7 linked regions of the Homo sapiens genome follow. The protein of the gene in region 7 purifies or fractionates together with the protein of the main gene of each other region. This does not show direct contact. Each region holds a gene or a part of one and is shown on either strand. Other genes may lie near its edges.

Region 1 (3,876 bases), on a different chromosome or scaffold from region 7:
AAACTAAACCACCAGGTGGCAGCGCTACTCAAAGCCATATATTTCATAGTAGCCATTTTGAGGTTTTGTTTTATAGTCAAGGGAAAATTTTATCTTACAGTTTTTCTCACTTAAATAAAGAAGCAATTAGTGGTTCTCTCTACAAATTTTTAATTGCCCGTTATTAAACAATAACTTCCATGCTCTGATCTAACCTCTGAGAGCTTCACCTTCTATTATGTGTAAGTACTTCTCAAAGAAATCTTAATGTACTGTGTACGTAAAAACAAGATGAGATTGCTTGGTTTATATGGTAGAATCTTATCTCTGCTACCTGAAGAGGTGGTATCCACATCTTTGATAACTAGAATAATAGCACTGCACATATTTTTAAGGCAGTTTAACATGAAAAGTGTCTCCTAGCTAAGCCCTATCATGCCATGGCTAAGATACGCAGAATGATATGCTCTTACAGTCCCCGTAAGGCAGTATAGACTACCAAAAATCAATGTCTTGAACCTCTTGGATTAGCGTATTTCCCACTTGCACTTGTGCAGAATATTGGGCTTTTTAAATGTTCTCAGTTGTGTAAAGGGTCAGTATAATATCACTTAGGGCCACAAACCATCTAGGCACAGTGTGTTGGAGACATACAAATGTTTGAGACTTGGCAAAAAAAATTGCTGACACCAAAATATGAGAATAAAGCTGCCAAAACAAATTGAATAAATATTTATTTAAATGTCTATAAAAGTTAATATTATCATTAACACTGGCATCATTGTTAGATTTAGTAGTCATAAGCATCTTAACATTTGAAAATAATTTATAGATTTCTCTTACTTTGTAAGAATTCCTAAACATACATGACTGCCCAGATATCTATCCCTCAGATATCTACCCCTTTTGTCCATGAGGGAATAAATCTGTCCTATGAATGCTGATCAGCTTCCATTAGAATAAAAATTAGAGTATTTTAATTGAATAAAACACATGCCTTAAAAAAAAAAAGTGGATCTTGATATCATCATCCCCAAAATAGCTCATAACTTGTCTCCTCTTCACAATCCACAGCCACCATTTAAATCCACATCATCATCTCATTCTTTAACTTTTATAGTAGCCCTCTGGTTGTTCTTCCTGATTTTCCTTTTGCATTTATCTAGTCCAGGACCCATTCAGCAGCCAAAACAATATTTTTCAAGAATAATTAGACTTTACTGACCATCTGACCATTACAGAATAACTGGTACCAAATTTGCCCTCCCACCATAAACAGCTATAGAACTTGACAAGATGTGTAAGACATTGTTTTCAGGAATGTAACAATAGGCAGCTCAGGAGGGTGATCCTTTGGAGAAGGGAAATAAAAGGTGAGCCCCACAGTTACCCAGCTTTCTGTATGAGGGCACTTTCCTGCTGTGGTGCTGGGAAGTGATACCCATGCAGAGTGGTGATGTGGCTGTGTTAAGGAAGAAATACCCCAAGTTCTGGCCTGCAGTGTCTCACTGTCTTTTTGCTCACTATACACCAGCCCCTCTGGCCTTTTTTCTGATCTTCAAAGACACCAAGCCCTTCTCTCTCAGGATCTTTGTCTTTTCCCTCTGGCCAGAGAACCATTCTTCCTTTTCACCTGCCTGGCTCCTTCTAAGTCTTCAGGGCTTAAATTTCACCTCCTAGAGAAGCCATCTCTAGCCACCCAATCTAAAGTAGATGTTTTTCCCTTCCTGATCCCCATCATTCTTTGTCAGCACCTTGTATAGTCCTTTATAGCACATACTACAATTTGTGATTATGCATTATTTTGGAATTTATTTGTTTATAATCTGTCAACTCCATTAGCAACATATAATTGCCACTTGGGACAGGAACCATATCTATTTGATTCTGCCTGTGTACCCAGTGCTTAGCAATTAGTAGTGCTCAATAAATACTGGTTAAATAAATGGATCTCCAACTCTAAAACAAATTAACCTAAGAACAGTTTAATTCATGCATATTTTATCCTCTGTATATTTTTCTTAGTGACATCTGTTTTTGGCTTTGTTCAGAGAAGTGAAATGTTCAGAATTATAGATAAGTTAAAATAAATGGAAATTGAAAAACAATAGGTGTGGAACAAATGGGTATAAAAAAGGCTACATAACAATCTCCTATTCATCTTGTTTTTTTTTAATTTTACTTTTTAATTTCAGCTTCTGATCTAATCCATTTCATATTATCCCTGTAACCTTACTGCTAATCAGTCACTCCTTGGCCTTCTTTCTTAGGGAAGAAGCTACTGAAATGTAACTAAGTAAGCACTACTCTGCTGGCTCCTTCAAGGCAGAAACAATGATTTATTAGTTGTATCCCCAGCACTTGGTACAGTGTATCGCACCTGGTGAATACTCAGTAAAGGTGGAATAAATTGGGAGTCTATGGTTTGCATGATGGTATAAGAAATCCTAGAGTTTTATTTTTTGCCAAAGATACATCGTACCTTTTTTTCAAACTTTTATATATATATTTTAATATTTTAAGTAGCTCCGAGACAACCTTTGAGTTCATCAACTGATGAATGGATAAATAAAATGTGGTAGATCCATACAATGGGACATTATTTAGCAATAAAGAATAATGAAGTACTGATACATGCTGCAACATGGATGAACCTTAAAAACATTATGTGGCTGGGCACGGTGGCTCACGCCTGTAATCCTAGCACTTTGGGAGGCCAAGGCGGGCTGATCACTTGAGGACAGGAGTTCGAGATCACCCTGGCCAACATGGCAAGACACCGTCTCTACTGAAAATACAAAAATTAGCCGAGTGTGCATGGTGGTGTGCACCTGTAATCCCAGATACTCGGGAGGCTGAAGCAGGAGAATCACTTGAACCTAGGAGGTAGAGGTTGCAGTGAGCCAAGATTGTGCCACTGCACTCCCACCTGGGTGACAGAGTAAGACTCTGTCTCAAAAGAAAAAATTATGCTAAATGAAAGAACCAGTCATGAAAGACCACATATTGTATGATTCCTTTTATCTGAAATGTCTAGAATAGGCAAATCCATAGAGAAAGAAGATTAATTGTTACCTAGGATGGAAAGGTTGGAAGGAATGGGGAATGATTGCTAATGGTATGAGGTTTTGTGGGGGATGATGAAAATGTTCTAAAGTTGATTCTGGTAATAATTGCACAACTCCATGGATATGTGAAAAGCCATTGAATTATGTACTTTAAAAGGGTAAATTGTATGGTATATGAATTCTATAACTCAATAAGGCTATTTTTCTAAAGATAACCTTTGAATTTACTTTTCATACCTAAATTGGCCAACTAAATGTTGGATATTTGTTGTAAGCTTGTTTTGATTAATAGAATTTAGATATATGAAATATATGTATATTTCAATAGTATAGGCACGTAAGTACCAATTTCTTAAGAAAAATGTGCTTATCATAAGAAATGATTGACATTTTCTCAGCATTTTTCTATTTGTTATTCCTAAAACAAATACAATATAGTTATTCCTATATTCTATTTCTATATATCTATAACTATATTCCTAAATATAGTTATTCCTAAACAAACAAATATAAAAATAAAATAACTGTATTTCTAAAACAAACAAATACAAAAAGTAGGGCCTTTTTGGAGATGGGTATCATCTCAAAGGAGACTAATTGAACAGTTGTTATTCAAAATCAGAAATATTTTTGAAGTAAAACTCTAATTGTGTATTGTGTTGAAATTAATATGTGTTGTTTCTTTCAGTCAGTGGAACCTAGTGAAGTGAAACAAGCAACTTCAACATCAGGACCAGCATCAGCAGTTGCTGATCCACCCAGTACTGAAAAAGAAATAGATCCTACCAGCATCCCTACTGCTATCAAGTACCAAGATGACAATTCCCTG
Region 2 (4,956 bases), on a different chromosome or scaffold from region 7:
GCTCCATGTTTTTGACCGCACCCAGGCTGCCTTCATCTCAGCTAGGACCCAGGCTGGTCCTAGCTCTGGCATGGCCCTTGAGGCATCCCTCTGCACGCACCTTTTCCTCACCAAGAGGGCATGGGGCACAGGGAATTCCTCCCCTTTGTTCTGGGACATGTCTGGAATCCTGGCCAGGCAGCGTGCTGGGACAGACCAAGTGCGGTCCCTCCCATCCAGGAGCTTACAGCCCATGTAGGGAGGGCTGTAAGGGCTCAGTACTGAGCCCCTAGCACAAAGGCCCTGTCCTTAGAAGGCCCTAGTCAGTATTTATTCGCTGAACGGATTCCACCTCCTGCATATCATACAATTGTCTGGGCAGCCATAAAGAGCTTCATTGTGCTTTAGGTGAGTGATCTCAGGCAAGTCACCTGCCCTCTGCATAGTTTCCTTCTCTGTACACCCACCATGGAGCTTCCTACTTTATCAACCTCATAGGTTTAAGAATAAAATAGGATCCTACTTAAGGCAGAGGTGCTGAAAGCAAACTGCATCCTTATTCCTGTATCCCTGGGGTTGAAATTAGCGGTAGCTCCTGTGTCTGGGGCATGTGAGCAGATACTCTTGCTGGGCTCTTTGACCACAGGAGTCTCCCAGAAGCAGGGCTTTATTTTATGTCTCACACAGAGAGGAGTGGCCCAGACCTGCCTCAGGAAGCCTCCATTTGCCCATGGCATAGGACACACCCCATGTTCCTCACTGCTCCATTCTCCTGGGTCCTAGCAGTGACCGTCATGCGTGCCTGTTTTGCATACCTCCCAAACCGAGGTGTAACCTGGGCAGCTTCTAGACACACTGCAAAGCAGGTCATTTAATGTATGACTGTGCAGGAGACTCAGTTTAAAGGAGCTTCAGACGGAAGTGACAGTGGTTGCCAATGACCTTTGACTTATCTCACAGCTCTCCCTTGAGCACCCACTGAATGCCCAGGTATTGGGGACACAGCAGTGCCTAAACACAGAATGTGGTGGTGTGGGGGTAGGGGGCGGCCTTCCCAGAGCACACAGTGTTGGAATGAGACAGAAATAATATGTAACTACAAACTGTCCTCAGAATGGTGAAGAATTTGAACAGGTGCCTGACACAGAATACCAGGAGGGGCCTGACTCTGGGTTGAGTGGGCAGGAAAGCACTCTCTGTGGAGGAGACTTTAAGCTGAGACATGAAGAATGGAGAAGAGGTGTTGTCCTGGAGGGGTGGCAGGAGCTGCAGAAGAGCCACTACAGGCTTAAGGGCCAGTCATCTGAGGAAAGAAAGTTCTAGACATGGGGAGAGGGGAGTGTGCTGGGAGCTGAGGTTGGGTGGGGAGGCGGAGCGGATTGTGAGAGGCTTGTGGGCTGTGTAAAGAGTTCCTGAAGTCTTTCTTTTGCTTTCTGGGTCAGGGCTTGGGTGCAGTGCCCGGGTGGTGTCCTTGAACTGTGAGATGAGACACCTCACTGGACACCTAGCCTGGCTTGCCAGGAGACCGGGGTGGGGGCGCCTCCTTCCAGGGCTGAACCGGAAGTGGAGGAGAGCTGCAATGGCCTTCCCATGCCCAGAAGCTGCAGGAGCAGACAATGGGGTTGGCAAGCTCTGGGTAGGGTACAGGCCGCACAGGTCTGAGGGCAAGATGCAAATGTCACTTTCAGTACCAAGAAAAACGAGGCAATAATCTAGAGTCCTGGGCTGAACGTGGACAGCTCCCGAATCATCAGGTGGGTGGGGATTAGGACAAAATCGTGTATCCTGGGGAGATGGAGGGAAACAGAACTGTGTATTGGTGTGCTAATGTCTCAGTGCTTGGTACAACCCTGGCAACTCTGCCAGGCCGTATTCTTGTTTTATGTACAAAGAAACCGAGGCAGGCTGCATGCTCAAGGTCATGGGATGCAGGCACGACAGGTTTTCTGAACTCAGAACTGACTCAGATTTGCCAGTCGGTTTGGACTTCTCACCCACTCTGAAGATCACAAAAGAAAGAAAGGTCAGGAAGCTCTTAGTGCCTGGTGAATACTGGATGGTAAATGCTCACAGGTCTGGAAGGGAGGAAGGGTTCCCCCCAAACGGTGGGTCTGGTCTGTTCCGGGCTTCACAGGAGACCAAGCAGAGAATAAGACAGTGCGGAGCAGGATGGAGGGCTCAGGGGTCTTCCCTGCAGAGGTTCCTGGGGGCGTGGCAGGGCTGTGGCTGACAGGGTGCTTCCTACGGTTTTTTCCAGGCCCAGAGGCCTTTGGGCCAAAGGCAGCCCCGCCGGTCCTTCTTTGAATCCTTCATCCGGACCCTCATCATCACGTGTGTGGCCCTGGCTGTGGTCCTGTCCTCGGTCTCCATTTGTGATGGGCACTGGCTCCTGGCTGAGGACCGCCTCTTCGGGCTCTGGCACTTCTGCACCACCACCAACCAGACGATCTGCTTCAGAGACCTGGGCCAGGCCCATGTGCCCGGGCTGGCCGTGGGCATGGGCCTGGTACGCAGCGTGGGCGCCTTGGCCGTGGTGGCCGCCATTTTTGGCCTGGAGTTCCTCATGGTGTCCCAGTTGTGCGAGGACAAACACTCACAGTGCAAGTGGGTCATGGGTTCCATCCTCCTCCTGGTGTCTTTCGTCCTCTCCTCCGGCGGGCTCCTGGGTTTTGTGATCCTCCTCAGGAACCAAGTCACACTCATCGGCTTCACCCTAATGTTTTGGTGCGAATTCACTGCCTCCTTCCTCCTCTTCCTGAACGCCATCAGCGGCCTTCACATCAACAGCATCACCCATCCCTGGGAATGACCGTGGAAATTTTAGGCCCCCTCCAGGGACATCAGATTCCACAAGAAAATATGGTCAAAATGGGACTTTTCCAGCATGTGGCCTCTGGTGGGGCTGGGTTGGACAAGGGCCTTGAAACGGCTGCCTGTTTGCCGATAACTTGTGGGTGGTCAGCCAGAAATGGCCCGGGGGCCTCTGCACCTGGTCTGCAGGGCCAGAGGCCAGGAGGGTGCCTCAGTGCCACCAACTGCACAGGCTTAGCCAGATGTTGATTTTAGAGGAAGAAAAAAACATTTTAAAACTCCTTCTTGAATTTTCTTCCCTGGACTGGAATACAGTTGGAAGCACAGGGGTAACTGGTACCTGAGCTAGCTGCACAGCCAAGGATAGTTCATGCCTGTTTCATTGACACGTGCTGGGATAGGGGCTGCAGAATCCCTGGGGCTCCCAGGGTTGTTAAGAATGGATCATTCTTCCAGCTAAGGGTCCAATCAGTGCCTAGGACTTTCTTCCACCAGCTCAAAGGGCCTTCGTATGTATGTCCCTGGCTTCAGCTTTGGTCATGCCAAAGAGGCAGAGTTCAGGATTCCCTCAGAATGCCCTGCACACAGTAGGTTTCCAAACCATTTGACTCGGTTTGCCTCCCTGCCCGTTGTTTAAACCTTACAAACCCTGGATAACCCCATCTTCTAGCAGCTGGCTGTGCCTCTGGGAGCTCTGCCTATCAGAACCCTACCTTAAGGTGGGTTTCCTTCCGAGAAGAGTTCTTGAGCAAGCTCTCCCAGGAGGGCCCACCTGACTGCTAATACACAGCCCTCCCCAAGGCCCGTGTGTGCATGTGTCTGTCTTTTGTGAGGGTTAGACAGCCTCAGGGCACCATTTTTAATCCCAGAACACATTTCAAAGAGCACGTATCTAGACCTGCTGGACTCTGCAGGGGGTGAGGGGGAACAGCGAGAGCTTGGGTAATGATTAACACCCATGCTGGGGATGCATGGAGGTGAAGGGGGCCAGGAACCAGTGGAGATTTCCATCCTTGCCAGCACGTCTGTACTTCTGTTCATTAAAGTGCTCCCTTTCTAGTCCTTTTTCTGCCCAGAAGTAGGTGATGTTATTGCCCTCAGCCCATTTCATTCTACACTGACTCCTTCCCATTCCCTCACCTGTTGAATTCTGGCTCCCAGCAATTGCATGGGTTTTTGGTCTCTGCCCCGGTCTTGTCACTGCTGCAGGTTCCTTTCCTGGTCTGGGCTGAGTGCCTATACCTACGTCTATTGTGATGTTTTAAATTTTTTATTCCAGGATGCATGGAGTCATGAAGCTGTCTGCTTTGTAGGATATAAGGCCATGGGCTTTAAGGTTGAACCACCAAGGTGCCCAGAGTCCATGGAGATCATCCTGGAAAGGTTTCCATGAATTGCTCAGTTTTACAGAGTACAGAGCTCATCAACCACACTGGCGGCATCTTAGCCTGGGAAATGGGAACCTGGAGCAATCTACAAGTTGCAAAGGGGATGTGTAACCCCCTGGTTTCTTCACGGGGAGGGGATGTATGGAGGTGGGGAGTCAGGGCCCAGAGAGGGATGCACTTGTCCAGGGTCACCCAAAGCTGGGAGTAGAGCTGACCCACCCACCAGCAGGATGCCTTTTCCTTGACACGGAGGGGAGTTTCTCTACTTCCCTCCAGAACGCTACCCCCTGAGCACTAGTAGGTTTGGTTTTGCAGAAGCGTTCAAAAATGGAGTCCTTTTTCATCCTCACATGGGGGCAGGGAGTGCAGATATTCAAAGGAACCAAGAACGAGAGTGGAGGGTGAGACTGAAGTCCCCAGGAGCTTAGAGGGGCAGCAGATGGCCCCTGTCCTTCCCTGCCTGGGAGCAGGGAGAGCACAGACACAGCCTTGGAGCATGGGCATTTGAAGTCAAAGGCCCTGGACTGAACTTCCGCCACCTCTTTGCTTAGTAGCTTGGGCAAGTCACAGGGCTTTGGTGGACCTGTCTTCTCTGAAATGGGATCATGCCCCATTTCCTGCTGTGTCTGCCTCAGGCCGAGGACATCTGTGTGGAAGAGCAGGAAAAATAGGGGTGTCCCCCTCACACCCTGTTGGGGGTAGTAAAAGGGGGGATAGTAAAAGGGACTGGGGGCCCTGGGGCTTCCCTGGCCTCCGTGGTGACTTTATCATATTATTT
Region 3 (4,305 bases), on a different chromosome or scaffold from region 7:
AACACAATAAAAGCTATATACAGCTGGATGGGGTGGTTCACGCCTGTAATCACAGCCCTTTGGGAGGCCCAGGCAGGCAGATCATTTGAGGTCAGGAGTTTGAGACCATCCTGACCAACATGGTAAAACCCTGTCTCTACTAAAAATCCAAAGATTAGTTGGGTGTGGTGGCTCAGGCCTATAATTTCAGCTACTCAGGAGGTGGAGGTTACAGTGAGCTGAGATTGTGCCACTGCACTCCAGCCTGGGCAACACAATGAGACTGTGTCGCAAAGAAAAAAAAAAGCCACATATGGTAGGCCCACAGCTCGTATCATACTGAATGGGGAAAAACTGGAACGCAACAAGGATGCCCACTTTCACCACTGTGATTCAACATTGTACTGGAAGTCCTAGCTAGAGCAGTCGGACCAGAGAAATAAATAAAAGGGCATCCAGATTGGAAAAGAAGAAGTTAAATTATCCTTGTTTGCAGATGATATGATCTTATATTTAGAAAACCCTAAAGACTCTACCAAAACACTATTGGAACTGACAAATTGATTAAAGTTGCAGGCTATGCCCCCAGGTGTGGTGGCTCACACCTGTAATCCCAGCACTTTGGGAGGCTGAGGGTGGGTGGATCACCTGAGGTCAGGAGTTTGAGACCAGCCTGGCCAACAAAGAGAAACCCTGTCACTATTAAGAATACAAAAATGGCCGGGCACGGTGGCTCACGCCTGTAATCCCAGCACTTTGGGAGGCCGAGGCAGGTGGATGACTGGAGGTCAGGAGTTCGAGACCAGCCTGACCAACGTGGTGAAACCCTGTCTCTACTAAAAAAATTACAAAAGTTGCCAGGCGCTGGGACTCACGCCTGTAATCCCAGCACCTTGGGAGAGTGAGGTGGGTGGATCACTTGAGGTCAGGAGTTTGAGACCAGGCTGACCAACATAGTGAAACCCTGTCTCTACTAAAAATACAAAAATTAGCTGGGTGTAGTGGCACACGTCTGTAATCCCAGCTACTCAGGAGGCTGAGGCAAGAGAATTGCTTGAACCTAGGAGGCAAATGTTGTAGTGAGCTGAGATTGCACCACTGCACTCCAGCCTGAGTGACGGGGCAAGACTCTGTCTCAAAAAAAAAAAAAACCAAAAAACAAAAATTAGCCGGGTGTGGGGGTGCACGCCTGTAGTCCCAGCTAGTTGGGAGGCTGAGGCAGGAGAATCGCTTGAACCCAGGAGGTCGAGGTTGCAGTGAGCTGAGATTGCACCACTGCACTCCAGCCTGGGTAACAGAGTGAGACTCCATCTTAAAATAAAAGAAAATATCCATACTACCCAAAGTAATTTACAGATTCAATGCAATCCGTATCAAAATACTGGGGACATTATTAACAGATAGTGAAAAAATAGCCAGGTGCAGTGGCTCATGCCTGTAATCCCAACACTTTGGGAGGCTGAGGCAGGTGGATCACTTGAGGTCAGCAGTTCGAGACCAGCCTGGCTAAACCCCATCTCTACTAAAAATACAAAAATTAGTTGGGCATGGTGACAGGTGCCTGTAATCCCAGCTACTTGGGAGGCTGAGGCAGGAGAATCACTTGAACCTGGAAGGCAGAGGTTGCAGTCAGCTGAGATCGTGCCATTGCACTCCGGCCTGGGCAACAGAGTGAGACTCCGTCTCAAAAAAAAAAAAAGAAAAAGAAAAAATAATTCTAAAATGTACATGGAGCCAAAAAAGACCCAGAATAGGCAAAGCTATCCTGAGCAAAAGGAACAAAACTGGGGGAACACTTGACTTCAAATTATACTACAGAGCTGTAGTAACAAAAACAGCATAGTACTGGCAGAAAAACAGACACATAGACCAATGGAACAGAATGGACCCAGAAACAAATAGGTACCTCTACAGTGAACTCATTCTTGACAAATGTACCAGGAATATTTATTGGGGAAAAGACAATCTCTTCAATAAACGGTGCTGGGAAAACTGGATATCTATATACAGAAGAATGAAACTAGACCCCTCTCTGTCACCACATACAAAAATCAAATTAAAAGACTTTAAGACCTCAAGCTGAAACTACTAGAAGAAAACATTGGAGAAACTCTACAGGACATTGGACTAGGCAAAGATTTCTTGAGTAATACCCCACAAGCACAGGCAACGAACGGAAGCCAGGTGTGGTGGCTCGCTCCCGTGAGCCAAGAGTGCGCTACTGCACTCCAGCCTGGGCCACAGAGACTGTCTCAAAAAGGAAAAAAATAAAAAGTTCTCATTATAGAATATTAGGAAAATAAGAGTAAGTATGGGTAAAAGCATAACATTTATTCATAAGTCTAGAAAGTAACAGTTAACATTTTGGCTCATTTCCTCTTTCTGTTGCTTTTTTTTATCTTGGCTCACTGCAACCTCTGCCTCCCGGGTTCAAGCAATTCTCCTGCCTCAGCCTCCCAAGTAGCTGGGATTACAGGTGCCTGCCACCACGCCTGGCTAGTTTTTGTATTTTAGTAGAGACGGGGTTTCACCATGTTGGCCAGGATGGTCTCAAACTCCTGGCCTTGTGCTCCATCCACCTCGGCCTCCCAAAGTGCTGGGATTACAGACGTGAGCCACTGCGCCCAGCTCTGTTGCTTTTTATACATGTAATCATAACTTCCTGTGATGTATGTAGAATGTTTTATTTTTTGAAGATAATTTTAGAATAGTAAAATATAGTTCTTCTGGAATTTTATTTATTTTTTATTTTTTTGAGTCTCCCAGGCTCAAGTGATTCTTCTGCCTCAGCCTCCCAAGTAGCCGGGATTATAGGCACGCGCCACCACACCTGGCTAATTTTTGTGTTTTTAGTAGAGACAGGGTTTTACCATGTTGGCCAGGCCGGTCTTGAACTCCTGACCCCAAGTGATCCACCCGCCTCAGCCTCCCAAAGTGTTGGAATTACAGGTATGAGCCACCGTGCCCAGTCTTGCCACACACTTTAAACAACCAGATCTTACGTGATGTAAACTTGCTGCCTCGAGGACAGCACCAGGCCATCAGGGGTCTGCCCTCAAGACTCAAGTGGCCTCCCACCAGGCCCCACCTCAAACATTGGGAATTATAATTCAGCATGAGATTTCATGGGGACACAGATGTAAACCATATCCTTTGGCCTCCCAGAGTGCTGGGATTACAGACATAAGTCAATGTGCCTGGCCTGGACATCTTTTTAGAAGCTCGTTATTAAATCATTGTGCATAAATTTTATACCTATAGTAATTAAACGTGAATGGCATTGCATTTCACTTTTTTTTTTTTTTGGATACAGGATCTTACTCTGTCACCCAGGGTGGAGCGCGGTGGCTTGATTATAGCTCCCTGTAACCTTCAATTCCTGGCTCAAGCGATTCTCCTGCTTCAGCCTCCCAGGTAGCTGGGATTACAAGCACGTGCTACCACACCCAGCTAATTTTTCTTTTTTCTTTTTTTTTTTTTGAGATGGAGTCTCACTCTATTGCCCAGGCTGGAGTGCAATGGCGCAACCTCGGCTTACTGCAACCTCCGCCTCCAGGGTTCAAGTGATTCTCCTGCCTCAGCCTCCCAAGTGGCTGGGATTACAGGCATGCACCGCCACGCCCGGCTGATTTTTGTAGAGATGGGTATTTTTAGTAGAGACGGGGTTTCACCAATGTTAGCCAGGCTGGTCTTGAACTCCTGCCCTTGTGATCTGCCTGCCTTGGCCTCCCAAGGTGCTGGGATTACAGGCTTGAGCCACCACGCCAGGCTCACACCCAGCTAATTTTTGTCTATGTTGCCCAGGCTGGTCTTGAACTCCTGGCCTCAAGTGATCCACCTGCCTCCCCTAACCTTGGCCTCCCAAAGTGCTAGGATTACAGGCATGAGTTACTACACTCAGCCCTACATTTTAAAAATTGATTGGAACCTCCAGGGTTAATGCATTTTAAAAAACATCAGGCTGGGTGCAGTGGCTTACATGTGTAATCCTAGTACCTTGGGAGGCCAAGGCAGGAGGACCACTTGAGTCTAGGAGTTCGAGACCAGCCTGGGCAACATGGTGAAACCCTGTCTCTACAAAAACAAAATTAAAATTAGCCAGTTGCACATGCCCGTAGTTCCAGCTACATTCCCAAGGCTGAGGCAGGAGCATCGCTTGAGCCTAGGAATTAGAGGCTACAGTGAGCTATGCTTATGCCACTGTGCTCCAGCCTGGGCAACAGACCAAGGCCGTGTCTCTAAAACAAAAACAAAACAAAAAACAGCAGGTGACACGGACCCATGAAGAAAGCCATTAAATTAAATGTTTTTAAAAAGTAGTGTACT
Region 4 (4,305 bases), on a different chromosome or scaffold from region 7:
CCAGCTAATTTTTGTATTTTTAGTAGAGATGGGGTTTCACCATATCCACCAGGCTGGTCTCAAACTCCTGACCTTGTGATCTGTCCGCCTTGACCTCCCAGAGTACTGGGATTACAGGCGTGATCCACCACGCCTGGACAGTACTGTTCTTATGTGGCCTCTTTCATTATACAGGGACAAATCAGCTGCAGAGAAGAGAAGACAGTTGATCCAGGAGTCCAAATTCTTGGGTGGTGACATGGAACACACCCATTTGGTGAAAGGCTTGGATTTTGCTCTGCTTCAAAAGGTGAGTCCTGGTGGTCAGGTGGGGAGTAATACTGTCGTGCTGAATGCTCTTGTATGGGTCTGGCAAGATGAGGAGGGAGATTCCTGAGAGTTCAGACTGAGTAGAAGAAGGGCTAAAGATGGCCCCTCTGAAAAGCTGATTGCTACTCATCCTTCAAGTATCAGGCCAAATTTTATTTCCTTGGAGAAACCTTCCCTGATCACCCAGGTGTGGTTAAGCACTTCCCTTCACCTCCTGCTTCCTGTACCTTTGCATAGCCCTTCTGTTTCATTTACCACAGCAGTTATTGTACTTTGTTGAAATTGTTTAATTTGTCTGTCTCATCTGCTATAAGCTCCATTAGAGTAAGAACAATATCTGTCATGTTTAATATTATATTCTTAGTTCCTGGTACAGTGTGGTGTAGTGGATGTTCAATAAATATATAAAATGAGTGTCCTAACCCTGCTTGCTTTCCTGTTAGGTACGAGCTGAGATTGCCAGCAAAGAGAAAGAGGAAGAGGAACTGATGGAAAAGCCCCAGAAAGAAACCAAGTAAGTAAATATTATGGAAAGGTTGAGAATTTAGAAAGGTGGGACCTAAAGTTAGAGCACATTTAGCAAAAATAAAACTTTTTTGTCTTTTCAGGAAAGATGAGGATCCTGAAAATAAAATTGAATTTAAAACACGTCTGGGTGAGTACAGTTTCTATACTAGTGACTATGCATTCTGGATGAATTGTACGGAATTTAATGCTCTGGGAAGGATATGCTTCTCCTTTCCCCCAACCTCCTTTCTTCTTTCTTTCTTTTTGAGACAGTGTCTCACTTAATCGCCCAGGCTGGAGTGCAGTGGTGTGATCATGGCTCAGTGCAGCCTTGACCTCCTGGACTCAGCCTCTTGTGTAGCTGGCACCACAGGCATGTGCCACCATACCTAGCTAATTTTTTTTTTTATTTTTTGCAGAGATGGGGTTCTCTGTGTATTGCCCAGGCCGGTCTCAAACTCCTGGGCTCAAGTGATCCTCCTGCCTTGACCTCCCAAAGAGCTGGGATTCTTTCTTGCCCCCAAAACAACTAACTCCCATAAAATACTCTAATAAGACTCAGACATAGATTTAATTATTTCATATGTCATTTATGTCTCCTCAGGTAGATTGAAAGATTTTTCAGTTTGGGGCTTATGAGTTAAAAGAAGTAACATGGTTAGTGATTAAAAGTTCAAAACTTGGAGTCAGAGAGACCTGAGTTTAAACCTTGATGATGAAACAGCACTAAGTGTATGATTTTAGGCAACTGACTTTGCTGTTTGTTCATCTGTAAAAATTGGGTTACTATTTACCACATGACTTTATTGTAGGGATGAAGAAAAATGAAATCTATAACATGCCTATCATATTGAGCAGGTAGTAGAGCTGTTTTTTCCATCATCATCAATATTACCTTAAACTTCATCCTTCTTCCTCACAGGACTTAATACAATACAGGTGCATAGTGCCCTTGAAGAGGCAATGTAGAAGAGTGGACAGGAGCCCAGGCTTTGGAGTTACATGGCCTGGTTCCATTCTTTGCTCCATTACTTAGTAGATACATGACTTTAGGTAAATTACTTAAATCTCAGCCATAGTATTCTTATCAGTAAAAAGGATAATAATATCCACTTCATAGGGCTGTTGCAAAGATTAAATGACGCAAAGCTTGCATAGCACTTGGCATGGTGGCTAGCACAGAGTAAGCACATAAGTGACAGCTGTTCTTGTAGATCCTGGCTACTTGCTGCTCTTCTCCTTATTGTAGGCCGCAATGTTTACCGAATGCTTTTTAAGAGCAAAGCATATGAGCGGAATGAGTTGTTCCTGCCGGGCCGCATGGCCTATGTGGTAGACCTGGATGATGAGTATGCTGACACAGATATCCCCACCACTCTTATCCGCAGCAAGGCTGATTGCCCCACCATGGAGGTGAGTGAATGGAATCCTGAGAGCCTATCATGTGAGCCTCAAGCCTGGGAATCAGCCTGGCCTCTGCCCCGTGTCCCTTGTCCACCATGTCACCAAGTGCTGTTCACTTTTACCTCCTAAATCTCAACTGAATCCATTCACTTTTCCACTTTTTCACCAATAACATTCCAGTCTAAGCTATAATCATTTGCTGGAACTATTAACTTACTATTTTTTTAGAGACCAAGTCTCACTCTGTCACCCAGGATGGAGTGCAGTGGTGCTATCTTGGCTCACTGCAAACTCCGCCTCCCAGGTTCAAACGATTCTCCTGCCGCAGCCTTCCAAGTAGCTGGGACTACAGGCATTCATCACCACACCTGGTTAATTTTTTTATTTTTAGTAGAGATTGGGTTTTACCACGTTGGCTAGGCTATTCCTGACCTCAAGTGATCCATCCGCCTTGGCCTCCCAAAGTACTGGGATTACAGGCATGAGCCACTGCGCCAGTCCTCTGGAGCTATTAAAAAGGCTTCTAATTGGTTTCCGCACTTCCACTCTGGTTTCCGCACTTCCACTCTGATTTGTTATTATATCTTGTTATTGAGGTGTTATTCACATGCCATATAATTCATCCTTTAAAGAGAATTTTTTTAAAAATTTTTGTGGATATATAGTAGGTATATATATTTATGAGGTACATGAGATGTTTTGATACAGGCATATAATGCATAATAATCACATCATGGAAAATGGGGTATCCATCCCGTTAAACATTTATCTTTTGTGTTACAAACAATCCATTTATACTCTTTTAGTTGTTTTAGAATGTATAAATTATTACTGCCTATAGTCACCCTGTTGTGCTATCATGTAGTAGGCCTTATTCATTCTTTCTATTTTTTTGGTACCTATTAACCACCCCTACCTCCCCTACCCTTCTAAAATATACAGTTTGGCTGGGTGCAGTGGCTCACACCTGTAATCCCAGCACTTTGGGAGGCTGAGGTGTGAGGATCACTTGAGGTTAGGAGTTCAATACCAGGTGGGCCAACATTGTAAAACCTGATCTCTACTAAAAATTAGCCAGGCGTGGCGGCATGTGCCCGTAATCCCAGTTACTCGGAAGGCTGAGGCATGAGAATTGCTTGAACCCAGAAGGTGGAGGTTGCAGTGAGCCAAGATCGTGCCACTGCATTCTAGCCTGGGCGACAGAATGAGACTCTGTCTCCAAATAAATAAATAAAATGTAAATTTTTGTCTCACTACAGTTTAGAAGCTTTTAGTAGTATCTCATTCTTAGGATAAAGAGCAAAATCTTTACCATGACTTTGAGCCTCTGCAACATCTGGCCTTTCTAGAATGTTCTAGACTCCTGACTTTCTTGAATGGTCTTGATTCATTTTGATGCAGGGCTTTTGTGCAGGCTGTTTTATCTCTGGAATATCCTTTCACAGCACTTCGTTTCCCTCCCTTCACCTACTGTATTGTAATTCAGTCTTTAGTTTGTTAAGTGAATGAATGAATAAATGAAGAGATTTCTGCTGAGTGGTTTAACATTCTTGTTTCTTGGTATTTTCAGGCCCAGACCACACTGACCACAAATGACATTGTCATTAGCAAGCTGACCCAGATCCTTTCATACCTGAGGCAGGGAACCCGTAACAAGAAGCTTAAGAAGAAGGATAAAGGTACCTGGAGGGTTAGAGAGAGAAGCCTTACCCACAGAGGACGTTTGGGGATAAAACCAAGGTCTCCTGGAGCTTTCTGTCTCCAGAATATTGAGAGGCTCCTGGGAAGCAGAGAAAAATGGGAGTACTGGAGCATTGGCAAGGAGACAGTTACAGCCAGATTCTGTCTCCTTAACCTACCTAAGAAGCAGTGGTCAGGTCTGAAGCATGAGGGATGGAGAGTGGGTAGCTTATGTCCTATTTATTTATTTTTTTTAAAAGAGATTTTTTGGTGAAAACCAGAAAACCTAGACAGATTCTAAAAAGGCTCTAATACTTGACCGACATTTTATTTTATTTTATTTATTTATTTTTTGAGACGGAGTCTCGCTCTGTCACCCAGGCTGGAGTACAGTGGTGCGATGTC
Region 5 (4,305 bases), on a different chromosome or scaffold from region 7:
CTAATTGAAAATTAGAGATCTTGGAGCTTTTTTTTTTTTTTTTAAAGAAACAATTTCCTTGCTGTTGTGTCAGGTAGATCTAAAAATGGTAACAGCATGTACTTGAATTGTGTTTAAGAAAATAGAGCTTCACAAAGGAGCTCAAAAACGTGCTAAGATTCTGTCAGTCTTCTTATTCTTTGGGCATATTTTTTCATTCTCCTTTAGAGTATAGAAAAGACATTATCCGTATTTTATGTTAAAACCATTATCTGTTTGGCCCTAATTGGTTTTTTCCCCCATTTTCATTCAAAACACCAATACAAATAAATGCTTTTGTTGATCACAGTGAAAGAGTTTGAGTTTAGGGACTGGGACATGTTGTGGGTAGGGGGAGGGAAGCTATAACTTAACAAATGACACAACTCCAAGATAGGAGAGTTTTGAGCTTCATCCTTTGGATAAAGCAAACTTTTTGTAATTTCTTTTTAAATGTTTCTCTAGTTTGCTTTATGTACTGTGTTTTTTAGTAAGTCAGTTGGTGCTTACAATTCTTGAAATTTTGTATACAAATGGATAGAAATTGAATTTGTACTTCCATCATTATGACATGTGTTATGGAAAACCAGAATTAGAAACCTCTTGTTAAATAGTTCAGCGGAGGTCCTTTAACTGGATGTTTTAAACCGTTTAGTTCCTTTTTTTCCGTTACCCTCCATATTCTTGAGTGCGCTAATAGGAATTTTCCTAGTGTGAATTCCTTGTGGTTTCTTTTGTCATTTCTTTGTTCCCTTTGTCAGCATTTCTCAAATGGAAGTGTGCATCACAATTACCTGATACTCGTTTAACATACAGATTTTCTGGTTCTATCCCCAGTGATTCTTACTAGGTCTTCAGCATCCAGAAATTTGCATGTTAAACAATCTCTCCAGGTGATCAAATGCAAATAGCTCTAATGTTATTCTTTCAGAAAGCAATGCTTTGCTATACATGGTCTCTAAGTCAGAGAGACATAGGATCCCTGAAAAAGCATCCTCCTATATGTCAGATGGGTTTTGGAGAGGCATAAACAGATGGTAATACGGCCCTCATAGCTGAGGTAGTCTCAGCTATGAGCCCTATAAATGGCTATGACCTTCTGTTTTTGCCACTGAATTTTAAATTGGATTATTGACATTAGCCACCTACATGACTCATGCATCCCTCCCAGATCACTTTTGATCCAGACAGAACCAGATTTCTGGGGCAGATTACAGGTAACCATTATACTACAAAGGGAGGTAATTTTCTTTTAAGTTAGATGGTTTGTGTGAGCTGTACATTTCATCAAATACCTTTTCCCATCTGTAATTTGTTCTTGAGAATATGGAGCTATTTACTTAGAGGGGATTTGAAAGAAGAGTTGAATTATTTATATTAGTTTGATTGAAAGTTGGAAAGAAATTAAAAGATACTGGGAAAGTGAAAAATACAGTCCTAGAGGGAGTATACATTAATTGCCAAAGATTTGAGGAAAATGACATGGGATGCTGGAGAATCAATTCATTTTCTGATCTGTTTTTTAAAGAAGTAAAGAATAGTCTGAAATTCTTCTGTTTAGATTTATAAGCACTTATCTGCAATTACTGTGTATAATTCTTACAGAAATGGAGGAGGCTATCACTTGAGTCATGTTAGACTCACCTGTCTCCTCCAGTGCACATTTTACAAAACCTATACATGCAGTGATGTTTTAAGTATAATGTTTTTTTTTTTTTTTTTTTTTTGAGACGGAGTCTCGCTTTGTTGCCCAGGCTGGAGTGCAATGGCGCAATCTCGGCTCACCGCCACCTCCGCCTCCCGGGTTCAAGCAATTCTCCTGCCTCAGCTACGCCTGGCTGATTTTTGTATTTTTTTTAGTAGAGACGGGGTTTCACCATGTTGGTCAGGCTGGTCTTGAACTCCTGACCTCGTGATCCACCAGCCTCAGCCTCCCAAAGTGCTGGGATTACAGGCGTGAGCCACCGTGCCCAGCCGTATAATGATATTTTTAAAAATATTTCTTGAAGGAAAACTCTTGAGTCTGGAATTATTTTTATAGTTTGGGATATTTTAGCTAATTCATCTGGGGTGTGTAGTGAACTCACATCTAGGGCTGGGAAATCTTTCTGGTTTAGTAATTTTTCATTGTAATTGATGCACTCAGGAACATACCTCCTTCCTAATTTCAGAGCTATTTTGAAATATGAATGAAAAACTCAGTAAAAAAAAAAGTCAACTTTTAAAAATAGTAGGGTCTGGTCAGGCACGGTGGCTCTCGCCTGTAATCCCAGCACTTTGAGAGGCCGAGGCGGAGTTTGAGACCAGCTTGGCCAACATGGCAAAACCCCGTCTCTAAAAATACAAAAATTAGCTGGTGGCGGGTGCCTGTAATCCCAGCTACTCAGGAGGAGGCTGAGGCGGGAGAATCGCTTGAACCTGGGCGGCGGAGGTTGCAGTGAACTGAGGTTGTGCCATTGCACTCCATTCTGGGCGACAAGAGCAAGACTCCGTCTCAATAAATAAATAGATAGATAGATAGTAAGGTCTGATAATTAGGATATTCTGAAGTAAGAGCTAAATTTTGGTTTTGTTTTTCCTGTTGCTGATTTTGGTGACACATCTCTGTTGATATCAGTAAATATCAATTGATAAGTAAAAAAATATGCAAGTCTTAACTTGGATGTCTTTCATCTTGCATGTGCTCACCTCCCTCCCCTCTCACCCAGTCGTTTGGGTTGTTTGCCTCCCCTTACTGTCATATCTTCATAGTGTGGAACTAAAACGTAGAAATGAGGGAAGTATAGTGGACAGATGTTTCCCCCACCCCTTCTTTTACCTAGGCAAGAGATTAGGGGAGTCTTTTTTGATTAAAGAGAGTAGGTCCAAAATAAAGACCCTGAAACACTAAAATCTGGGGATCCCCAACAAAAGAACTGGCTCAGTACCTAGTGATCCGACGGAGACACCTCTGTTAGACAGCTCCTGCCCACACACACAGCTTCCAGTCTTGCTCTTCTATATGAACAGGCAGTTAACGATGATCATAAGGACCAACCTGAGCAGCAGAACCAAAGGGACTGAGGAAACAGACAGTGCTGGTACAAGTATGCAAGTTTTCTGTAAACAGATTACTTTCAAACAGTTGGGAGCCCCAGGGAGATAATAGAAGGTATCCTACTCAACAGGAGTATATAGAATGCTGTAGAAGAGGAATATTGTAAGAACAAGAACTATCTCTTGAAAACTAAAAATATGATAACTGAAATATAAATTTAAATAGGATTGGAAGCTAAAGCTAGGAAATTACCCTAGAATGTTTTTTGAGAAATGGAAAATACGAAGACCAAAAAAATAAAATAAAACTATGCTGTGAAAGAGAAAGATTAGCATTTGAGAAGGCGGAAGTTGGTCCTGCTCAGATGCGGTTTTCAGATGCCTTATTCTAAAAATAGTGATAGAAAACAAATTTCTACAAAGCAAAATTACAATAAATTTATTAAACTCTTGCAACAAAGCTGTTTTCTTATGTCTTCCTATGTTTTCCTGCTGTCATTCAATGTGATGCTGAAGTTCTTCCTCCTTAAAAATGTAATATTTTTCCCTTTGCACAGGTAATTTAGAGTTTTAATTTATTTGGTCATCATGATAGCTATTCCTGATAGCTGTCCTGTTACTTAGACATAAAAATAGTGAGTAAGCCCAATTACATATTTGTAGGGTTGTTGAACTCTTAAAAAGAAATCACTTCTTTAATTTTTCTACTTTTTAAAATGGGAACGCAGAATAATAATGAAATTTGTTCTAAACCAAAAACCTACCTGGTTTACCAGTTATTGCAGAATCTTGCCGTTGAGATTAGCAAGCAGTCTGTCGTAATGGCTTATTCTGTGCAAACTCTTTCCTCAAGATTGTTGAAAGATGGCTTTTAATTTTAACTGTTGTTGTTTTGCAGACAAAGCTCTGATGGCACCAAATCTTGACTCCTTTGGACGCGATCGGGCACTGTATCAAGAGCATGCAAAACGTCGCATTGCAGAGCGGGAGGCCAGGAGGTAATTCTCAAAACCCTTGCTCTGGCTTGTTTGGGAAGGGAGGAGTCTCTGTTATCTAGTTTGGGAACTTGATGTTTATTATTTAGGACTCGTCGTAGACAAGCCAGAGAACAAACCGGTAAGATGGCAGATCACCTTGAAGGCCTTTCCAGTGATGATGAAGAAACTTCTACAGATATTACTAATTTCAATCTGGAAAAAGGTTAGACATTTATTTGGAAATAAGACTCATCATCAGTTTAGTTTCTACTTG
Region 6 (3,381 bases), on a different chromosome or scaffold from region 7:
CACATGTGTTGTCTTGTGACCCTTCACAGCCTTTGGGGAAGGAAGTGGGGGCATAAACTAGAAATTAAATATATCAGTATAGTGGTCTTCTTTTTATAGGATGGCATCATGAAAAAGGAGGGAAAAGATAATGTCCCTGAGCATTTTAGTGGAAGAGCAGAAGATGCAGACTCTTCATCCGGGCCCCTCGCTTCCTCCTCACTCTTGGCTAAAATGAGAGCTAGAAACCACCTGATTCTGCCAGAGCGTTTAGAAAGTGAAAGCGGGCACCTGCAGGAAGCTTCTGCCCTGCTGCCCACCACAGAACACGATGACCTTCTGGTGGAGATGAGAAACTTCATCGCTTTCCAGGCCCACACTGATGGCCAGGCCAGCACCAGGGAGATACTGCAGGAGTTTGAATCCAAGTTATCTGCATCACAGTCTTGTGTCTTCCGAGAACTATTGAGAAATCTGTGCACTTTCCATAGAACTTCTGGTGGTGAAGGAATTTGGAAACTCAAGCCAGAATACTGCTAAACAACATTGCTTCCTAAACTTTCAAGTCCCTTTTTCTAACGGGCATTTCTGATTATTAATTTATTATTAATAATCATGTTTGTCAATGGAAGTTGGCTGCACTTGATGTTTGTTTGCATGATGTCTACCTCAGAATTAAAACTTTAAGGAAGAAGAAACTCTTCTCTGAAAGTTAAAAGTTTTAATAATGCTAGCTAAAGGAGAAAATACTTGGATTGATTTTTTTTTTTTTGGCAATCTAATTATATTGTAAATCAGGTACCTAACAGTTACTCCTTGGAGCACATTTGTTCCTTTACCCAAAAGATGCTGTCAGGGAGCACAGTTAGAAGTTTGCAGAACAGAAATCTCAATATTTTTTTTTATTGGTGCTAAAAACAGGTCTTACATTCAGTCAGACCTGTTCAATAAGTTCATCAATATCTGATAACAGCATTATTTTGATGCTTAAACTTTAAACATTTATATTTACCATTTGCCACCCACAAAGGTCAGGTTTGTTATTTGTTGTTTGATAATTATATTAATTTTCTTGGAAAGATCCTCTTTTCAAGGTACTGGTAAATTGGTGAGTATTTTTATTAGTAAAGCATGAAATAGTATGGTAATAAATGATAAGACATGTATTTGTGGAAAGCTGTAGGGTATTCAGTTTACCCTGGCTTTCCTTTAAGCAGAGGGCATCTTTTTCTCTCCTACAGTCACAAAATGTGTTATCATTAAAAAAAATCAAATTAAAGCCAAAAGTAGGTACATAAAAACCACACACATGCATGCACACAAACATCACTGCAGCCCACAGCAGACCCAGCCGTTGTTACCATGAAGTGACACCACTCCAGGCCTCTCTTGTCTGCAGGCTGGCAGGCTGTCTTCTCTCCAGTTGCCTTCGTCTTGCGCCTGCCTTTGCATTCCTTGCGACGGGCTTTCTTGTTTCTGCGGTTTGGATTCCAGCCAAGGCTGTTTGTATCTCACTACTGTTTATGTGTTTGTGGTTCTGTGATGGTGTTGCTTTGATCCTCAGTTTATTTTCTTACCCATGTTTTTCTTGTTTCCTTCTCAGGATGATTTTATCATCTCATCTTTGAAGTGTTGTTTTCCGAAATTCATCGTATTCCTGAAATTTCTTCTTAGCTGTCTTAGTGCAGTTTGTTTCTTGGATTTGTATTCTCTGGCATGCTCTTTTCCTCTCTCTCATTTTTCTGTAGTATGCCTGCCCTCCTACCCTGCTATTTCTTTACATCTCTCTCATGCTTAACATGGATAGCTGTGTCCAGATCTTCTGTCTGCTCATCCATGTGACTCAGAGAGGAGGGTTCTGGGCAGGGGGGCCTTGCCGGACTGCATGAGAGGACATGAGTTTTGCTTTCTCTGCTCTAATATTTTGCTTAAGCCAAGAATCCTTTTCTTAGAGATGTTCTATATGATTCCTGTCAGGATTTTCTAGTTTTTTTTGGATTATAGCTTGTTCATTTCTTTTGTTTTTAGTTTGGTTTATATATAATGAGGGAAGAAGATGATTACATTATTTTTGTCACTTTGCCATCATTGTTTAGAAGTCATAGAAAGAATTTTTAAATAGGCCAATAAGTCTTAAACTTGAGTACTTGGCTTAGAAGAAAGTCAAAACTCCTTCCTTTTTGACTAAGTGGTTTGTTTCTGGGGAGCTCTTAATTTCTATTTTTATAATCATTAGCCTATAAGGAAATTGTGTCTTCCTTGTTCTCAGGGTGATCTGCTGACCTTGTTCACTCATGAAGCATTTGGGTATCATACTTATAGTGTCTGAAACATAAACTGTATTGAGCTAGACAAGGTATAGCCTCCTCTTCAAGTAGCAAATACTATCAAAAGCTATAATGCAGTAGGAGCAAGGTGGTCCTTGTTCCAGTTTTTGTCTCAGTTCTGCTGCTGATGTACCATGATCTTGGGAAGGTGGTGTCTCAGTGTGGAGATCTGACACATTGTTACCGTGCCTCCTGGCTGGAGGGACTTGGAGAACAATGCAGTTAAGTAGAATGGTTTTAACAATACAGAGAAATTTATTCATTTAGATAAAAATCTGATTTTTAGAACTTTAAAAGCTTTGTACAGTGTAAATAGATTTAATGTATTTAACATGCTTTATCAGCACAAATAAAGGATTTTAAAATTTTGTCAAAAAATTAAATGTTAATACTATCACCATTAAAAATGTTCAAGCAATAGTCTGCCTCCCCACCCCCACACCATCTTGCACCTGTTCCACAGCTAAGTACAGCCCTAGGTTTGGTGTGTATTCTCCATGCATTTAGAGAATCACATGACACAGACTGCTGCTATAATGTCATTTTCCCATTCTTCCTTTACTAATAAAATTTTTGAGTTTTACCTGGACGTCTGGCTGCTCAGCTTAAGACTACTTCTCAGCCTCTCTTATAGTTAATTGTGGCCATATGACTAAGTTTTAAACTTCCCAATTGGCCCTTTAAAGAAGCAGGGTATGCACTCTCCTTGACATTCCCCTTTCTTGCTGGCTGGGAGGCCAATGGGAGCTTCAGTAGTGACCTGGCATCTCAAGAGATGGAAGTGATGTGTTGAGGAAGGAGAAGTTGGCCTGCCAGTCTTGAACTGCTCTCCTTTGACCTGTTATTTAAGAGTAAAATAAAATACTGACTTGCTTAAGCTACTGTCTTTTGAAGTCTATTATAGCAATTAGTTTGCTTTAAATATGTAATTTATATTAATGGCCTTATACCATCCTTATTTTGCAACTAACTTTTCATTTAATATTATATGCAAGACATTTCTATTCCTGTAAGTATAGCTCTGCCTGCACAGAATTGTTGGATTAATGATGTAGATTTTAAATGTCAGTGGATG
Region 7 (3,759 bases):
CTGGAAAAACGATTCCAAAGACTCATGCTGCTACCGGGACCACAGGTGCTAGCAAATGCTCTCAATCCTTCCTGTCATCATAAGATGGAAAGTGCCTTGATGAGCAGGTACTCAGGAAGGATGGGAATTCAGAGGACACTATTTTCTAAGGTGGTGGCTATCAAAGCCTATACTGTGGCCCATTTTAGATTCTTTAGTCTGGGCTGACCTGCCTTCGGTGACAGTGGGATATATGATTATTCCTGCCTGGGTGCAGGGCTGAGCCTCCTGTTTTCGTAGACAGTCATGTTCACGGCCACCATGCCCCCAGCGGTGGAGCGTCTGGCCAGGAGCTATCTTCGGCGACCTGCTGTGGTGTACATTGGCTCCGCAGGCAAGCCCCATGAGCGTGTGGAACAGAAGGTCTTCCTCATGTCAGAGTCAGAAAAGAGGTATGAGGGCAGCTGAGCCAGGGGAAACAGGGTGGAGAATAAAATGGCTCTGAGAACTTTTTTAGTGCAGGTGCAGGGCAGGGCAATTGCTCTGCTGTGTTGAAGAGCTGCTGTTTTCTTGGGCAGAATGTCATGGGCATTAAAGACCCTGAAAGTAGTGTTCATAGATGAGGGTTGGGCATTTCACTTGGAGTGGGAGGTATTATGCATCTTGTTTTTCTCCTCTTCCTTCCAGGAAAAAGCTGCTGGCAATCTTGGAGCAAGGCTTTGACCCACCCATCATTATTTTTGTCAACCAGAAGAAGGGCTGCGACGTGTTGGCCAAATCCCTGGAGAAGATGGGGGTGTGTCTGGCAGGGGAGAACAAAGTCTAGCCTCTGTGGCACTGCTTTCTGAATCTAGCAGGGCCCCCTAGGCTCTTCCTTTCAAGTCTCACCCTTTCTTTAGCCTGTCCAGCAATCAACAAGTTAGGACCAGGGTGAAGGGTGGTTTGAGGGAATAAAGAGAATGGAATCAATTGCTGGGACCCCCTGTCTGCTGCAGTAATGCCAGCCAAAGCTGCCTTGGGTCTTCATCCTGGTGAGGTGGAGCCAGGGAAAGGTTTGAGACCCATATCCTGGCAGTCTGAGGATGTAGAAAAGAGTAGGTGAAAACTGCTTAGGTACGTTGAGAGGAGGTGATATGGTCAGAAGGGAGCTGATAATCAGTGTCCTTTACTCCTGTCACTGGTGCTTGAGGGGAGGGGTGTGTCCCTGTCACTCAGCTCTCCAACTTCCTTAAACTTCTTGATCCCTGCTTTCTACCCTGATCTCGCCCCTAATTCTCTTTGAGGACTTTTCATCTGTCTGGCTCCACCGCTCTCCCAGCTGTTTTGCCTTTGACCTTACTCTGTGTGTCCCTGCCACACCACACCTTTTTCTCTCATCCCTCTCTTCAGCTCACTTGTTCTCTCCTTCTTTCACTGCAATCATTCTCTTGTTTCCTTTCCTTTCTCGTACTCTGCTGCTCTCTCCAACCCTCCCTTCATCTGTGTCCCATTCCTCTGAACTCCTGTGTCTCTCCTTGATTGCATTGCTCACTCTTCACTTCACCATTCTTCCAACAGTACAATGCTTGCACACTGCACGGTGGAAAAGGCCAGGAGCAGCGAGAGTTTGCGTTGTCCAACCTCAAGGCTGGGGCCAAGGATATTTTGGTGGCTACAGATGTGGCTGGTCGTGGTATTGACATCCAAGATGTGTCTATGGTTGTCAACTATGATATGGCCAAAAATATTGAAGGTAAGTTCCAGGGAAAGCAGCTTCAATCCAGGGTGAAGTCAGATTCCTTATGGTGTCCCACTGGAAGTCAGGGTGCTGTCCATGGAAGGCTGTTACTGCCTCCCTCAGTTCCAAGTCTGGGATTGCTTGCTCCCATGAGAAGCACTCCTGTCCTTTATCTTACCTGGGTTTGTTGTCCCAGCAGCTGGGATGACACTTGTGTCCTCAGGAGTGTGAAGAATGAAGCTAGGCAGCTGTGGGTCTTAGTGTGGTAGGGACCACAGTCAGTAGGAGGACAGGGGAGATGGGCACCTGGAGAGGGCACTGTGGGCGCCTCAGGTTCAGGCAGCATGTGCTGTATTCCTGCCTTTGGAGATGGGGTGGGAAGGATGCCTCTAGAAGTGGAGGCATCAGACACGGCTCCCCAGGGCATCTGGGCTATGCTGAGTGACGTTCTTCCCATTCCCCAGATTACATCCACCGCATTGGCCGCACGGGACGAGCAGGCAAGAGTGGGGTGGCCATCACCTTCCTCACAAAAGAGGACTCTGCTGTGTTCTACGAGCTGAAGCAAGCTATCCTGGAAAGCCCAGTGTCTTCCTGTCCCCCCGAACTAGCCAACCACCCAGATGCCCAGCATAAGCCAGGCACCATCCTCACCAAGAAGCGCCGGGAAGAGACCATCTTTGCCTGACACAGCACTCTTCCTGTGGGCTGAGGGCATCTCCAAAGCTGCCTGATGCCTGTTTTTCAGAACCCTCACATCCCTCTTTCCAGGTCCTCACTCTTGGGATATGGGGGCTTAGGAAAACAATCCAACTCCCTAGCCCAGACCCTCAGGTCAGGAGGCCTGCGTGTGGGGCTGCAAAAGGAGAGGACGACGCTGTCGGAGGCAGGGAGAGCAAATTACCACAGCTTCTTGGCCCAGTTCTGCCCTTCTTTGCTTTGGGATTGCACTGGGCCATCAGCTCATGCCAGGCTATGGGGGCAGCCAGTTGGCATTGCTCCCCAGACTGAACAGAAACCTGGCCGCCGGATGGGACCTCCTTTGGCACAGACTTGACTGTGTAACTGCATAAACTGCAGTAGCATCATTGCCCTAGATGCCCCAGGAGACCTGGCACCATGAGGATTACAGACAGTGGAATCTTACTGTCATCTGGACAGCTGTTTTCCTGTTTGGATGGTAAAGGAAGTTGAGAGTCTTTAGACCTGTGCACAGCCCCGCACCAAGGGGTGCTGTATGCTCTAGGCATCCCCTCCCCCAGGGGATTTTCTAAGTAGATGGGGGGACACGGTGAACTGGCTGTGTCCATCTTTGTCACTGAGTGAAATCTCTGTTTTCTATTCTCTGAGAAGATAAGTTTGTATGTTCTGAGAATAAATACATGAATATTAAGACTGTTAGATCTAGTTCTAGTTAAACTTCCCAGCTTCTCCCTGGCAGGAGGGACACCACTGGGTGCGGGGTGGGTTGGCTTGGAAAATGAGAGACAGCCACATTAAGAGAAGAGTAGAGGGGTCTCTGCTGATAGTCTTGAGTCTGTAGGTGGACTTGAGAGGAGATGCAGAAGCCACGCAGGACTGTAATGCATCTTCCGCCCCTGCTCTAGCCTCGCGTAATGTGTGGCCCTGGCCTGGACACCCTCTAGGGAGCTTTAGGCAAAGGTGAGAAAGGAAAGCAGTTGTGAAATTTTGGCAGGTGAGGCAGTTGGAACCACTCTGCCGCTGTGTGCCCAACGCCTGGTCTCGGGAGCTTTGCTTGTGGCTCCCTAGTTGGACCCATTGCTCCTGGGAGGGGATGGTGCAGAACGGGTGGACCCAGCTGTATCAGGCTGTGGTGAGAGGAACGCAGGGCTGCAGTCCTCCCCCCATACCCCTCTTGTTCACATGCTCTTCTTACCCCACAGAAAGAGTTGGCCTAGTACATAGAGTTCAAGTTGTAGCTGCTTCTAGGGCCTTTTTGGCCTGGCGCAAGGATACTGTAAAGCCGTGACCAAGCGTCTTCCCCACATCCCAGGACAAGCCCTTCCGTGCTGCTGGATGTCTCCCTCTTGACACCTGGGCAT

What was found.
Region 1: the proteins of DDX23 (region 7) and RSRC1 purify together in Homo sapiens (affinity purification with mass spectrometry; 2 studies listed by BioGRID and IntAct, with this or other methods). This does not show direct contact.
Region 2: the proteins of DDX23 (region 7) and TMEM37 fractionate together in Homo sapiens (co-fractionation; one large-scale study listed by BioGRID). This does not show direct contact.
Region 3: the proteins of DDX23 (region 7) and PRPF6 purify together in Homo sapiens (affinity purification with mass spectrometry; 5 studies listed by BioGRID and IntAct, with this or other methods). This does not show direct contact.
Region 4: the proteins of DDX23 (region 7) and IK purify together in Homo sapiens (affinity purification with mass spectrometry; 3 studies listed by BioGRID and IntAct, with this or other methods). This does not show direct contact.
Region 5: the proteins of DDX23 (region 7) and PAXBP1 purify together in Homo sapiens (affinity purification with mass spectrometry; 3 studies listed by BioGRID and IntAct, with this or other methods). This does not show direct contact.
Region 6: the proteins of DDX23 (region 7) and ERCC6 purify together in Homo sapiens (affinity purification with western blotting; one study listed by BioGRID). This does not show direct contact.

The regions. Positions count from the first base shown.
Region 1 is NC_000003.12:158,539,600-158,543,475, forward strand, and holds part of RSRC1 (serine/Arginine-related protein 53), read left to right. Parts: intron 1-3,735; coding exon 3,736-3,876. UniProt on the Homo sapiens protein: Has a role in alternative splicing and transcription regulation. Involved in both constitutive and alternative pre-mRNA splicing. May have a role in the recognition of the 3' splice site during the second step of splicing.
Region 2 is NC_000002.12:119,434,653-119,439,608, forward strand, and holds the end of TMEM37 (voltage-dependent calcium channel gamma-like subunit), read left to right. Parts: intron 1-1,638; exon of another isoform or gene 1,639-1,733; intron 1,734-2,236; coding exon 2,237-2,788; 3' UTR 2,789-3,852; downstream 3,853-4,956. UniProt on the Homo sapiens protein: Thought to stabilize the calcium channel in an inactivated (closed) state. Modulates calcium current when coexpressed with CACNA1G.
Region 3 is NC_000020.11:63,987,204-63,991,508, forward strand, and holds part of PRPF6 (pre-mRNA-processing factor 6), read left to right. Parts: intron 1-4,305. UniProt on the Homo sapiens protein: Involved in pre-mRNA splicing as component of the U4/U6-U5 tri-snRNP complex, one of the building blocks of the spliceosome.
Region 4 is NC_000005.10:140,653,764-140,658,068, forward strand, and holds part of IK (protein Red), read left to right. Parts: intron 1-174; coding exon 175-289; intron 290-752; coding exon 753-823; intron 824-917; coding exon 918-964; intron 965-2,065; coding exon 2,066-2,229; intron 2,230-3,790; coding exon 3,791-3,899; intron 3,900-4,305. UniProt on the Homo sapiens protein: Involved in pre-mRNA splicing as a component of the spliceosome. Auxiliary spliceosomal protein that regulates selection of alternative splice sites in a small set of target pre-mRNA species. Required for normal mitotic cell cycle progression.
Region 5 is NC_000021.9:32,750,866-32,755,170, reverse strand, and holds part of PAXBP1 (PAX3- and PAX7-binding protein 1), read left to right. Parts: exon of another isoform or gene 1-3,055; intron 3,056-3,818; exon of another isoform or gene 3,819-3,917; intron 3,918-3,952; coding exon 3,953-4,052; intron 4,053-4,138; coding exon 4,139-4,254; intron 4,255-4,305. UniProt on the Homo sapiens protein: Adapter protein linking the transcription factors PAX3 and PAX7 to the histone methylation machinery and involved in myogenesis.
Region 6 is NC_000010.11:49,455,953-49,459,333, reverse strand, and holds part of ERCC6 (DNA excision repair protein ERCC-6), read left to right. Parts: intron 1-99; coding exon 100-519; 3' UTR 520-3,381. UniProt on the Homo sapiens protein: Involved in repair of DNA damage following UV irradiation, acting either in the absence of ERCC6 or synergistically with ERCC6. Involved in the regulation of gene expression.
Region 7 is NC_000012.12:48,829,094-48,832,852, reverse strand, and holds the end of DDX23 (probable ATP-dependent RNA helicase DDX23), read left to right. Parts: intron 1-279; coding exon 280-431; intron 432-666; coding exon 667-775; intron 776-1,536; coding exon 1,537-1,711; intron 1,712-2,160; coding exon 2,161-2,384; 3' UTR 2,385-3,097; downstream 3,098-3,759. UniProt on the Homo sapiens protein: Involved in pre-mRNA splicing and its phosphorylated form (by SRPK2) is required for spliceosomal B complex formation.